Linked DNA regions of Homo sapiens: regions 2 and 3 are each linked to region 1. The links come from fine-mapping of genetic effects on gene expression. A gene starts in region 1. Each other region holds a variant in brackets. All regions are shown on one strand. Distances are from middle to middle. Region 1 holds the start of IL7R (interleukin 7 receptor). Region 2 has its middle 26 kb from the start of IL7R. Region 3 overlaps CAPSL (calcyphosine like).

The links. PIP is the estimated chance that this variant, and not a neighbour inherited with it, causes the effect.
Region 2: its variant is the best candidate, but not a certain one, in a credible set for the expression of IL7R in whole blood (INTERVAL, PIP 0.60).
Region 3: its variant is the best candidate, but not a certain one, in a credible set for the expression of IL7R in fibroblasts (GTEx, PIP 0.80).

The regions. Positions count from the first base shown.
Region 1 is chr5:35,854,278-35,858,506 of GRCh38, forward strand. It overlaps IL7R (interleukin 7 receptor), which reads left to right and starts at 2,614. Exons shown (of 8, transcript NM_002185.5): 1 at 2,614-2,782. The coding sequence starts at 2,701.
Region 2 is chr5:35,828,574-35,832,822 of GRCh38, forward strand. No RefSeq gene overlaps it. Among named protein-coding and RNA genes, the nearest start is that of IL7R, 26 kb to the right of the region's middle. The variant T/C (reference allele first, on the strand shown) is at 2,067.
Region 3 is chr5:35,917,423-35,921,671 of GRCh38, forward strand. CAPSL (calcyphosine like) reads right to left here. Exons shown (of 5, transcript NM_001042625.2): 2 at 3,562-3,698. The coding sequence starts at 3,698. Among named protein-coding and RNA genes, the nearest start is that of CAPSL, 19 kb to the right of the region's middle. The variant C/T (reference allele first, on the strand shown) is at 1,983.

The sequences.
Region 1 (4,229 bases):
TCACAAAAGTAATGACAAAGTAATATAGTAAATGTTTGTTACCTGGGGGATAGGGTGAACTAGGTGGTTCTTCCTCAGCTTTTCTAAGTCTCCAAAGGACTAACAAGACCTGAGTGAGGAAAGAGAGAAGGCACTGTTGTTCCCCCACAATCTCTAGAAGGACTGGTGACGCATGTCATTTTTCTTTGAGCTCCCCACACTTTAGGCTTCTCTCTGAGGTCTTTTCAGCATCTCCTGCCCCACCCAAGAGTAAGCACCCCTGTGGAAATCCCCAGAACAAACCAGCACATGCTGTACCAAAATATTGTGTCTTGGCTTTGTTCTTTTACATCTTCACAACTAAAGGAAAGAGATACAATCAAAATGATAGTCCACTTAAATGATAAACAAGAGAATTTAAAGAGACATAACCCAGTTACTCACCCATGAAGTGACAATCTGTTAGCAGTTTAGGAGATTTGCATTGGTAGATAGATATAATTTGGGATTTCTCCTTGAACATTAGCTTAATTCATGGGAATCTGTAATTATAGCTTTCTTGAAAGGGTATTTAGCTCAGTGTACAAAACATACCAATTTTTGTGAATCAGGCTTACAATTTTCTAACCAAGCTTTCAAAACAAGATTAGAAATGAGGGCATAAATTATTATCGATGCACAAAATTGTCACTCTTTATTTGGCTTGGAAGGGTTTTGAAATGCCCAGAGAAGGCCCTGACAAATGGAGAAGATGGAATATGTCCCCTTCAGTTGGATTCTTGCTCCGAAGTATTCCTTGAGCCTATACTCCAAAGTGTGGCATTATAACTGGTGCAGACGGAGTCTGTCTTAAAACTGAAAAGGAGGATCCAGAGACTGGTACAAATGTCCCACCTCCTTTTTTTGTTACTTCGTTATTGTCAAATAATTGTAATGATGGGACAAGCTAAATCATGAGTCTTTTAAAGTCTCTTCGATTTGCTTTACACCTGGGGGGTTGTTGCTTGTCTCTGCTAATTTTAGCCATTTCACAGGCCCATGGGAGCAATTCTACCTAATGACAGTGAATCCAACAGAAGTTCATAACTCACTGATCACTTAGTTTCTCTGCACTCCTCACCTTATAACTGCAGTCTTGTGGCATTTTTCCAAAAGAGAGCCACTGTGAATCAAGCATAGAGTTTTATGGCCTGAATCCAGGTTAGATTATTTTTTTCAAGAAAAAGAAAAAAAAATCTAACAGTTACCAAGAAGCAGTCAGGCTTTACAAATATCACCACTTTAACCATGAGGCCATATTAGGAAGGCTTTTGACTGGCATTCAGGTTTGGGGGAGTCTGAATTTTCTATGCCATGGTCTCAGATTTCTGCCCCATATACCTAGGCACTAATTTAGTTCATATGTACTATGTGTACCTGAAAAGTTGTGTGGCAATCAAATTTTCACAAATAGAATCCTGTTTTAAATACACTAAGAAAGTACCTACTTTATCCTTTAAACAAGAGGTCAGCAGACTTTTTCTACAAAGGGTCAGATAGTAAAGATTTTACACCTTTTGTACAATACAATCTCTATCTCATCTACTTAGCTCTGCCATTGTTGCATAAAAGCAGCTGTAGATGATACACAAATGGGTGAGGCTGTATTCCAATGAAACGTTATTTGCAAAAACAGGTGGTAGATTAAATTTGGTCCCAAGGCTTACTTGGGAAAAAAAAAGATCTTTTGAAAAAGAAAAAATAAATGAATAATTTTTTAAAAAATTGTTCCCTAGGTCATAGTTTGCCAGCCCCTGCCCTAAACAAATAATTCTTGAATGCCTACTGTGGTGTGTAAGATATGAGTAAATACCAGGGATACACAGAGAACAAAAGAGAAAAACTGCTATTCTTGTGAAACTTGGAAGTTGGAGGTAAGCTATTTAAAATAAACCCACAATAAAGTACTTCACATAGTGCAGACTGTTTCTTTAAATCAAAACTCACTCCAAACAACCAATTGATTCACTTTGTAAGTTTGAATTTTTGTCTTCAGATTCTTTTAAAGTGGGCCCTTAGTCAGGAGCGGTGGCTCATGCCTGTAGTCCTAGCACTTTGGGAGGCTGAGGCAGGCAGATCACTTGAGGTCAGGAGTTCGAGACAAGCCTGGCCAACATGGCGAAACCCCGTCTCCACTGAAAACACAAAAATTAGGCTGGCATAGTGGCATTTGCCTGTAGTCCTAGCTACTCAGGAGGCTGAGGCAGGAGAATTGCTTGAACCTGGGAGGTGGAAATTGCAGTGAGCCGAGATCATGCTATTGTACTCCAGCCTGGGCAACAAAGCAAGACTCTGTCTCAAAAAAATAAAAATTAAAAAAATAAAGTAGCCTCTAGCCTAAGATAGCTTGAGCCTAGGTGTGAATCTACTGCCTTACTCTGATGTAAGCACAGTAAGTGTGGGGGCTGCAGGGAATATCCAGGAGGAACAATAATTTCAGAGGCTCTGTCTCTTCATGTCCTTGACCTCTGCTTACAGCAGCAATACTTTTACTCAGACTTCCTGTTTCTGGAACTTGCCTTCTTTTTTGCTGTGTTTATACTTCCCTTGTCTGTGGTTAGATAAGTATAAAGCCCTAGATCTAAGCTTCTCTGTCTTCCTCCCTCCCTCCCTTCCTCTTACTCTCATTCATTTCATACACACTGGCTCACACATCTACTCTCTCTCTCTATCTCTCTCAGAATGACAATTCTAGGTACAACTTTTGGCATGGTTTTTTCTTTACTTCAAGTCGTTTCTGGAGAAAGTGGCTATGCTCAAAATGGTGAGTCATTTCTAAGTTTTCTTATGGATTTTGGATTATCTGTAGCATGGTTTCAGGTTATTCAGTTCCCTAACAGACCTGAGTCAGGCACTGGGTTTGAATGCAGTTTGAGAATTTCCCACATATTCAGTCATTTTTTTTAATGTTTAACCACCATGACAGGGGGCAGGGGATCAATACTATGGGTGGTTTATAAGACCTCAGTATTCTCAAGAAGGAATGCATTTCACTCCCAAGTGTAGATCTTAAATGTTGAATGATTACTCTGCTCTTACAAAAAGAATGCTCATGTAGATGCTATGACTGTACTTGTAGGAAAATGTCCAAAGTAATTTTACCTTGTCAGGAGATCAAACTGGATTCATTTTGTTTGACTTTTTAAGAAATCCTGAAAGCATAACTTTCAGGATAAGGTAATGTACAGAAGCAATAGCTTTGTCTTCAGTGACCAGTGCTATATCCTCAGCACCTAAATCAGTGGCTAGAATATAGTAGACATCCAATAACTTTTGAAAGTGTTTTCAAAATACTTTAGTTTTGAGAGATTTATGTGAGATTTTAAGTAAATAACTGACTAGAGAAAGATCTAAATGAGTTTACTCATTGAAATACACTGAATTGCCTCCACACCAACAAATTGGCCATATGTAATAATTCTTTTTGGGATCTAAAAAACTTAGTACCGAGAAGCCAACCCTGCCCATACATAAACACATTGTAATTATAACAAAACTAGGCAGAAGCTTCTAACAGCAGCAGGAGGCATGTGGGAATTTAGACCATCAACTTGCTCCTGCAAATTAAGCCCTTTCTCTTTAAGAGTTAAAAACTATTTGGCTATAGACAATATCAAACACATCAGCCTAATGACTCAGCTTATGCATTTTGAGTCATGTAATTACGAAGGATGGAAATCCCTAGAATTTTCTCATTAAGGGAATTGTCAGAGAGTTTGACATTTTTTACAGTATATGACTCACTTTATGGGGGATGATTATTATTCTATGCTAAACTTTGCCTTGGATTTCCACAAAGACTGATGGGAGGCAGGAAACATAAATCTTACTCTCTTTCATGTCATCTATACTCACTAGTTCACCCTGGTGATCATACTATTTTTAAAATATATAAGAATGCTAGTTGAAAGCTGGGTTTTCACTCCAACTTTTTAAGTTTCAGATTTTTTAGAAGATGTATAATTACCCTATTCACATGATTACGTCAAAATACTTCCCAGTTTGGGGTATAGGAATTCACATTCAGTTGCTGCTTGTTGAAAGTTGTCAATTTTCTGATCATCACAAGGATGATCAAGAGAAGAAAGGGATACTTTTTAAAAATCCAAATCATTTACACTATTAATCAACTAACTCCATTCAGTAGGAAGAAGACTTCTAGATGACACTGGCTTGCCTATGATACATATTCCACACAATTTAAATTTTTA
Region 2 (4,249 bases), 26 kb before region 1:
GTTCCCATCCTCCATCCAAAAGTCAACCACTGTTAGTAATTTCTTAATTATCCTTCCAGAGAAGACAGTTAATAAATATATTCCCAACTTAACAGATTGCAAGTGATTTAAAAACAGTAATTTTTAAATGGTAAAGTGCATATGGATCACCCAAAGATCTTATTAAAATGCAGATTCTGATTCAGTAGGTCTGGAATGGGGCTGCAAGCCTGCATCTCTAACAAACTCCCAGCTGAGGCTGTTGCTTCTGGTCCATGAACGATACTTTGAATAACAAGTACTTTAAACATTATACTTACTCTAATACATGCTGGTAGAAATGTGAATTAATACAGGCTTTTTGGAAGCAAGCTTAGAAAATCCCATTAAAATCAAAAATATTTTAAGTCTTCAACCCAAAAATCTCATTACTGAGGATCTAATCCATAGGAAAACAATAGATAGATAGATAGATATAAATATATTAATAAATATATAGGTCATATATATTTATCAATGCTTTTTTCCCAATAAGTAGAAAACAAAGCCCTACTTAAAGGAAGCAATTGAGTTAATTGTAATATAACTATAACATGGGACACTGTGCTATCATTTAAAAAGAGAATAAGATTTCAGAGATAACTGGTTCGTTTAGAGATTTCCAGAATGTATTGTTGTTGTGTGTGCAAAGCTAGACTCAGGCAAGTATATATTATATAATCCTCTTTTTGCAAAATAAAAGACAAAAAATTAAATGCATTTGTTTGTCTTTCCATATATGAATGTGTGTAGTGTCTATACTCATAGATGTGTATATGCTATATATGATTCTGTCAGCATATAGAAAAATATGTAAGATATGCTCTAAGTTATTAGCCTGAATTTAGAGGATAAAAGATTATTGTGCATGAAAGGGCAAACAAACAAAAAAAATGAGAGGAAAACTGCATTTGAATAGCATGTTTAATATCACATTCATGTAAAATTAGGGGTGTATGTGTATCTTTATACATAAAGAAATTGAGGGCCTAGTGCAGTGACTCATGTCTGTAATCCCAGCACTTTGGAAGGCCAGGGTGGACCGATCACTTGAGGTCGGGAGTTCAAGACCAGCCTGGCCAACATGGTGAAACCCTGTCTCTACTAAATTAGCTAGGTGTGGTGGCTCACACCTGTAATCCCAGCTACTCAGGAGGCTGAGACAAGAGAACCTCTTGAGCCTGGGAGGCAGAGGATATAGTGAGCCGAGATCGTACCACTGTACCCGGGCCTGGGCAACAGAGTGAGACTCCAACTCAAAAAAAAAAAAAAAAGAGAGAGAGAGAGAGAAATTGGAAAACCTTGGCGTTTTTTTTTGTTTGTTTGTTTGTTTTGAGACGGAATCTTGCTCTGTCACCCAGGTTGGAGTGCAGTGGCGAGATCTCAGCTCACTCTAACCTCCGCCTCCTGGGTTCAAGCAATTCTCCTGTCTTAGCCTCCCAAGTAGCTGGGACTACAGGCACATGCCACCTTGCTGGGCTAATTTTTGTATTTTTAGTAGAGATGGGGTTTCACCATATTGGTCAGGCTGGTCTCGAACTCCTGACCTCAGGTGATCCACCCGCCTTGGCCTCCCAAAGTGCTGGGATTATAGGAGTGAGCCACTGCGCCCAGCCATCTTATTCTTTTTATTTTTAAGAAACCTATATATGCCATCAAGCACTATATATATATATATATATATATATATATATATATATATATACACACACACACATTTTAAGGTAAAACATGAGACTTCAATGTCCTCAAAACATGTCCTCCTTCTTAACTTACTTCAAATGACTTTGAGATGAAGGTTTGAGAATTCCTGCTTAGATCATTGCTGCCTACATAGTATCTCTCAGTTTCATTGCTCTGAGTAGAAAAAAGAAATGACAGTGAAGATTGATATTTTAATAATGACCAGGAAGGTGATGATCTGGGATCACCCCATATCAGTTACTTCTAACAGCAGGCACCTTATAGTGTCTATTATTACTTAAGTAATAATAGTGATTAAAGCTCCTTGAGTTCTGCTTTGAGAGTTAGCACCTGACTCCTCTTCA[T/C]TGAGCTCAGAAACTGCCACCTATCCGCAACACCTTCCTCTTTAATGCTTGTTCTCCCCATTTTACTCCCCAACCCCCACTCCGAAGAAATAAACACCAAATTAGCAGTATCTATATCCCACATCACGGTGCAGAATGTGGGGCAGATTACCAAAGGATGTGAGAGGCACACAGTTTGAAGTCTTTTTATCCTCAGAGTTAAGAAACATTATTTTTTCCTCCCTACCACTACCCACATCTGAGCACAATCAGACAGACAGCCAAAATACACATATGGCAGATCAGCTAGAAAAAAAAATACGGCCATACTTGCATTTTGTTTTGAAGATTTTCAGATAATATCAAAGATTGTTTCCAAGCCACAGTCCCAGTTTTATAGTCCAGGGCAATGCTTTAACCATTTCAGAAATGAAAAACAGCATAGGTTTCCAATTCTTTCTCTTTGGAAGCTCTGGAACAGATCTTAGTTCACTTCAATGACAAAGCTGTTTGATCTAAACAAATACATAATCTGATACATCAGGTGCTGTCACCCAAAATGTTTATTTTTATGAGAAATTGAAAAGTAGTAAGATATCTAGATATCCAAAACATCTACTATGTGCTTCCTTCTCTTCTAAGAAGATTCCTTCCTAAAGGAAGGTTCTAACCATGGATTAGCACAAAGACAGTCTTCCTTGTCTCATTTTTCTTGTTACCTGCAGTAATCTTTCATACAATAGTGTTGGTGGGTAGTATAATATTTACCTACAGTTAGCTAAGGAAAGTCTGCTTCAGTTAGCATTCTAAGGGTTTCAGGTGTCAAGTAAGTGTAAACATTTGCTCTTCCTTGGCAAATAACTTTATGTCATTCTCACTCCATCTTTAGGAATCAAATGTTATCCACCAAGTAGACAGGAAGTACCCAAGCCTGCATGGATGAAGTGGTGATGGCCATTACTAAGAGCAATTAGGAGAACCACAGCCTCTGATCCATAGTAACTTCTCTTTCCAGCCAAATACTGACCTGGAACTAGGCAGTAAGTGTCCAGGCTCACTCTTCCGTCATAAGGCATTAGCCGCTACAAGCTAAGAAGAGACCAAAGAGATAAAGTGTCACTCTATCTCCTCCACAGCTTCTCAAGAATTAAAGGGTCCATTGGAAACATGGATTCTAGTCCTGTTGCTGGCTTCTGGAAATGCAGCCAAACAGTACTGGGGACATAGTGTGAGCCACAGATTGGGCGGGACACCCTGTGATAAAACATCAAATTTGTCACACACGAGACATATGCTTTGCAACATGTGTGTCCCTCTCTCATAACTTCACAGCAATGGCATAAGCAATATAATAGTCTCCAAGAAGTACAATTCTATTGTACAATTCTATTATCTTCAAACATCAAACATATATGATAATAAGAACTAGGATGACAAATGTGCTTTCTGATTAAAGAACATTTTTTCAGAAGATTATTCTTTTCAGAGTTAACATCTTTGGGATTGAAATGAACCTTACAATTAATATCATCATAGGTTAGTGAAATGCAGTAAATAACAATATTAAATTCACATATCAATGTTGTTGGTTCTAAAGCAATTGCAAATACTTGTGAAATAAGTTGATCTCTTAATCATGCTCTATCATGTTTTTTGTTTATTGGTTGGTTTAACTGTGTTTTAACCTTGGAATCGTTTTCTTTATTGCTAGTACCTAATTAAACTTCCCTCTAAGTTACCTGATTTACTAAAATTCTGAATTATTTGATGCCACAATAATGATATTTTGCTTTAAAGGCAATTTCTACTGTTATTGTAATCATCTCATCTGTTTCTATCCTGGCTTGAAGCCCAGCTGTCTGGTCTTCTCATTGTACCTGATTCCATTTGAATGGACTGTAACTTATATTTAATCAGTATAAAGGGAGGACTATGTAGTTCTAAATTTTTTCTCCTTGTTTTCATTCAAATGTTACATAGATTTTTATTTTTAGAACTGAACACCTTTTTAAACAAATATACTCGTGCTTAGCAGGACACTAATCTGACCTACTTCGATGGGAATGTGTTGAACAATTGCAAATCACTTACCAACACTGGCTGACCTATTTTCAATCATATAAGGTTTCTCTGAAACATTTATCAAGAGGGAACATGAATTTAAATCATTATAGAATTGTCTCTTCAATCAAACAAGAGCAAAA
Region 3 (4,249 bases), 63 kb after region 1:
TTATTGTGGCACTATTCACAATAGCAAAGACTTGGAACCAACCCAAATGTCCAACAATGATAGACTGGATTAAGAAAATGTGGCACATATACACCATGGAATACTATGCAGCCATAAAAAATGATGAGTTCATGTCCTTTGTAGGGACATGGATGAAGCTGGAAACCATCATTCTCAGCAAACTATTGCAAGGACAAAAAACCAAACACCGCATGTTCGCACTCATAGGTGGGAATTGAACAATGAGAACACATGGACACAGGAAGGGGAACATCACACACCGGTGCCTGTTGTGGGGTGAAGGGAGGGGGAAGTGATAGCATTAGAAGATATACCTAATGCTAAATGACCAGTTAATGGGTGCAGCACACCAACATGGCACATGTATACATATGTAACAAACCTGCGCGTTGTGCACGTGTATCCTAAAACTTAAAGTATAATAATAATAAAATTTTAAAAAAAAGCTTATCGTCATTAGAGAAATGCAAATCATGTCAGTTAGAATGGTGATCATTAAAAAGTCAGGAAACAGCAGATGCTGGAGAGGATGTGGAGAAATAGGAATGCTTTTACCCTGTTGGTAGAAGTGTGAATTAGTTCAACCATTGTGAAAGACAGAGTGGCATTTCCTCAAGGATGGAGAACCACAAATACCATTTGACCCCACAATCCCATTACCGGATATATACCTAAAGGATTATAGATCTTTCTACTGTAAAGACACTTGCACACATATGTTTATTGCAGCTCTATTCACAACAACAAAAACTTGGAACCAACTCAAATGTCCATCAATGATAGACTGGATAAAGAAAATGTGGCACACATACACCATGGAATATCAGGCTGCCATAAAAAAAGGATGAGTTCATGTCCTTTGCAGGGATATGGGTGAAGCTGGAAACCATAATTCTTAGCAAAGTAACACAGGAACAGAAAACTAAACATCGCATGATCTCACTCGTAAGTGGGAGTTCAACAATGAGATTACGTGGACACAAGGAGGGGAACATCACACAGTGGAACATGAACTTCAGGGGGTGGAGGGCTAGGGGAGGGATAACATTAGGAGAAATACCTAATGTAGATGACAGGATGATGGGTGCAGCAAACCACCATGGCACATGTATACCTATGTAACAAACCTGCACGTTCTGCCCATGTATCCCAGCACTTAAAGAATAATTTTTTTAAAAGATGGAAAGTTGGAGTAATCAGAATCTAAAGACTTTTAAATGTCCTTAAATGCTAAAAATTTGAACTTTATTAGCAAGTCATTTTTAAAGTCATTAAATGGTTGACTTGAAGTGACATTATCAAAATAATGAGAACTTTACCCATAAGAGAGCTAACAGAACTCTAGCAATAATGGGTTGAATGAATTGGAGGACTGAAAACTTAGGAGCAAAGGAACCAGCAAGAATACTATCATAAGAGTCCAGTGAAAAAAATGTTGAGTGTCTACACTTGAGCAATTGGGATGAAAATAAGAAAAATAAAGATTTCAAGATATTATAGAAATAAAGGAGTCAATATGGTGGGCTAATGAAGATAATTCTAAAGTTTTCAACCCAAAGACCTGGAAGAGTAGTAATACTGTTAAAACCGTAGGGGCTGCAGAAGAAGCTCTATTTGGAAAACAAAAAACAAAAAAAATGACTTTTGTTTTGTTTGGATTGGATACTAAGTCAACTATATAGAGATATTCACTGGTTAGCTAGTATCTTTCCTGATTAAAAAAAAAAATATATATATATATATATATAAAAATTGTGAAATTAGTTTGGATCTCAGGAACGGATAGCATTCCAAGAACGTGGCAAGGGGCCAAGGTACAGATGTGCTAACTCAGGAGTAGCCAAGTTGTCTGATAAATTAAGGATACTAGCAAAAGAATCTTGAGAATTTAGATACTAGAGAAGTATCTACATTTACAAGGCAATTGGAAATGACTAAGAAAGAACGTATACTGTTGAAAA[C/T]CACAAGAATTTCATGTCAAAAAATGAAGGTGCCAAGGTTATAAATAACAAAGTCATCTTGATCTTGGTCAGGATAAAGACTCAGGGTGGAAAGATGGTGCCGGGAGTCAATGCTTCACAGAATGCTAAATGTTGTGCAGGGGGGATGATGGCAGAGCCTAACCTGAAGAGATGCCCTTCTAAGACAGGATTTATGGGAAAGAAATAAATGAACAAAGGGGTGTGTATGACCTGGGATTTGGAGTTAGACTGAAGGAGAGTGTTCAGTCTTCAACTGACCCTAAGGTAGGAGTGGAGGAGAGGGGCAGCTTCCACTTGAGTTAGGAGTTACTTAGAGAAGGCCAAGGCCAGTAAGTGAGGCAGATGGCACATTCTGCAAAAGGCTTAGGATGGAACGGTGTCCATTGACTGTAGACTGGTTCCCAGTGGAAAGGCTGGTAGAGACGCAGTGTGCAGTGGGTATGGGGTGAAGATGGCACAGGTAGCAGGAGGGATTCCACTGAGTGAACCAGAGAGTGGAAGAGAGGATTCCTCAAGGGTTTGCACTAAGGACAATGATGTGGACCCATGATGAATGGGATAGAGGTGGAAGTGACACAATATTGAGGGCATGGGTGCTGGTCTTCCCATTGGACTGGGGCAGCCTGGCCACCAGGGTCCATATCCCCACTGCCTGGCCTTCTGACAGAGCTGGGCTTAGTCTGAGACTTGGGACTGTTCAGAGTTTTCTCCCAGGCACTCAGTACCTTGCTGGAAGTGAAGCCTTCCGCATCTTCTGGGTCCAAGGCTAGATTTCCCTCCCATTGGCACCCTGTACTTCTCTAATAAACAACTTCTCACACCACTGAGATGCCATTTAGATCACTCATATTGTCCATAGTCTTAGTCCTCCATGGGGGCTTAAGAAGCCTTGTTCACCCACGGGTCCCTGAGATGTGTCCAATGCCTGGCCCATGGCAGGCTCTTGATGGAGTTTCTTATAATGCACAGGACCTGCCCTCAGGAGGCTCACAATCTCCTTTCCCTTTTGGTTTCTCAGTCCTTAAAACTATTCACACTCAGAGGACAGAGGGTGGGAGAACAGGAGCTACCCAGCTGAGAGAACCCCATTGGCAGTGAGCTATCAGTTATCTGACAAGCAATACCAGTGTCCCTGGAAGTGATGGAGAAATGATTGCCCGAGAGCAAAATTCCAAATTCTGCAATTAGGGCTAACTGGCTGTTCCTTCCTCCCTCTTCCACCCTGGCCTTTATTATCACAGCTGCAGAGAGAGTCCCTCTCATTGTCCTGGTAGGCATCTCCATGCCAGGGCACATGCTGCTTCTCCCTTTACCTCATATTTTCCCAGAGCTGCACTGTCTTGTAGCAGATATGAGTCTTGCCGAATCTGGGACTAAGATCCAAAAACTGTCACAAGGGACCTCATAGATCAACTCTTCTAAACTCTACATTTTACAAATAAGGAACTGAGCCCCTAGGAGGAGATGACTTCCCCAAGACCACGTGGCCAACATTAGCCTCACCTGGCAGAGTCATTCCTTCCCGCTCCATTCCCTGCCACTTGTAGCTGGGTCCTACCTGCCAAGTCCTTTGATCCCAGCAGAGCCCCTGGCCAGGCACTGCAGTCGGAGTCTTTCAATGGGGTCGGTGGCCGTGGTGAGCTTTTTCTTGGCCTGGATCGCCATCTCTCGGTCATGGCGCGCTGTCCCTGCCATCTGAGGGGAAGCCATAGCATGTTAGCAAAGTCCAGGCCTCGCCGCTGCCTCTGGCTGGGCAGAGTGACAGAAGCCTCACTGAGAAGGAAATTTACAGCCTTCTCTGTCAGGAAACCTCTCAGAATTTCCAATTTTTCTCTATGCCAACTGTGTGCCTGGCATATTTATAACTTACTTATCTAGTCCTGAGGACATCTGGTTTCTCCAGCCTAGACAATAATCTTAAATATATCACCATTTCCCAAGATGTTTTGATCTTTCTGAAGCCCTCTTCCATCCATAAAAGAAGTGCAATTTCTCTATACTCTCTTTTTTGAACCAACATTATATACCATATTATTTTATGTAGAATTTTCCATATTCCCTTGACCCTCACATTTAATGTTCTCCTCTTTGGTCTAAACATTGATTTTGTTGCTTCTGTCTTGAATGAGATTTTCAGCACTTGATCCTTAATGATTCTTACCAGTAATGGGTATGGTCTCCTTGATTCACAGGTTAGTATCCACTAACACCTAATGAGGTTCTTAGGATGGGTGCAGTGAAGTGCT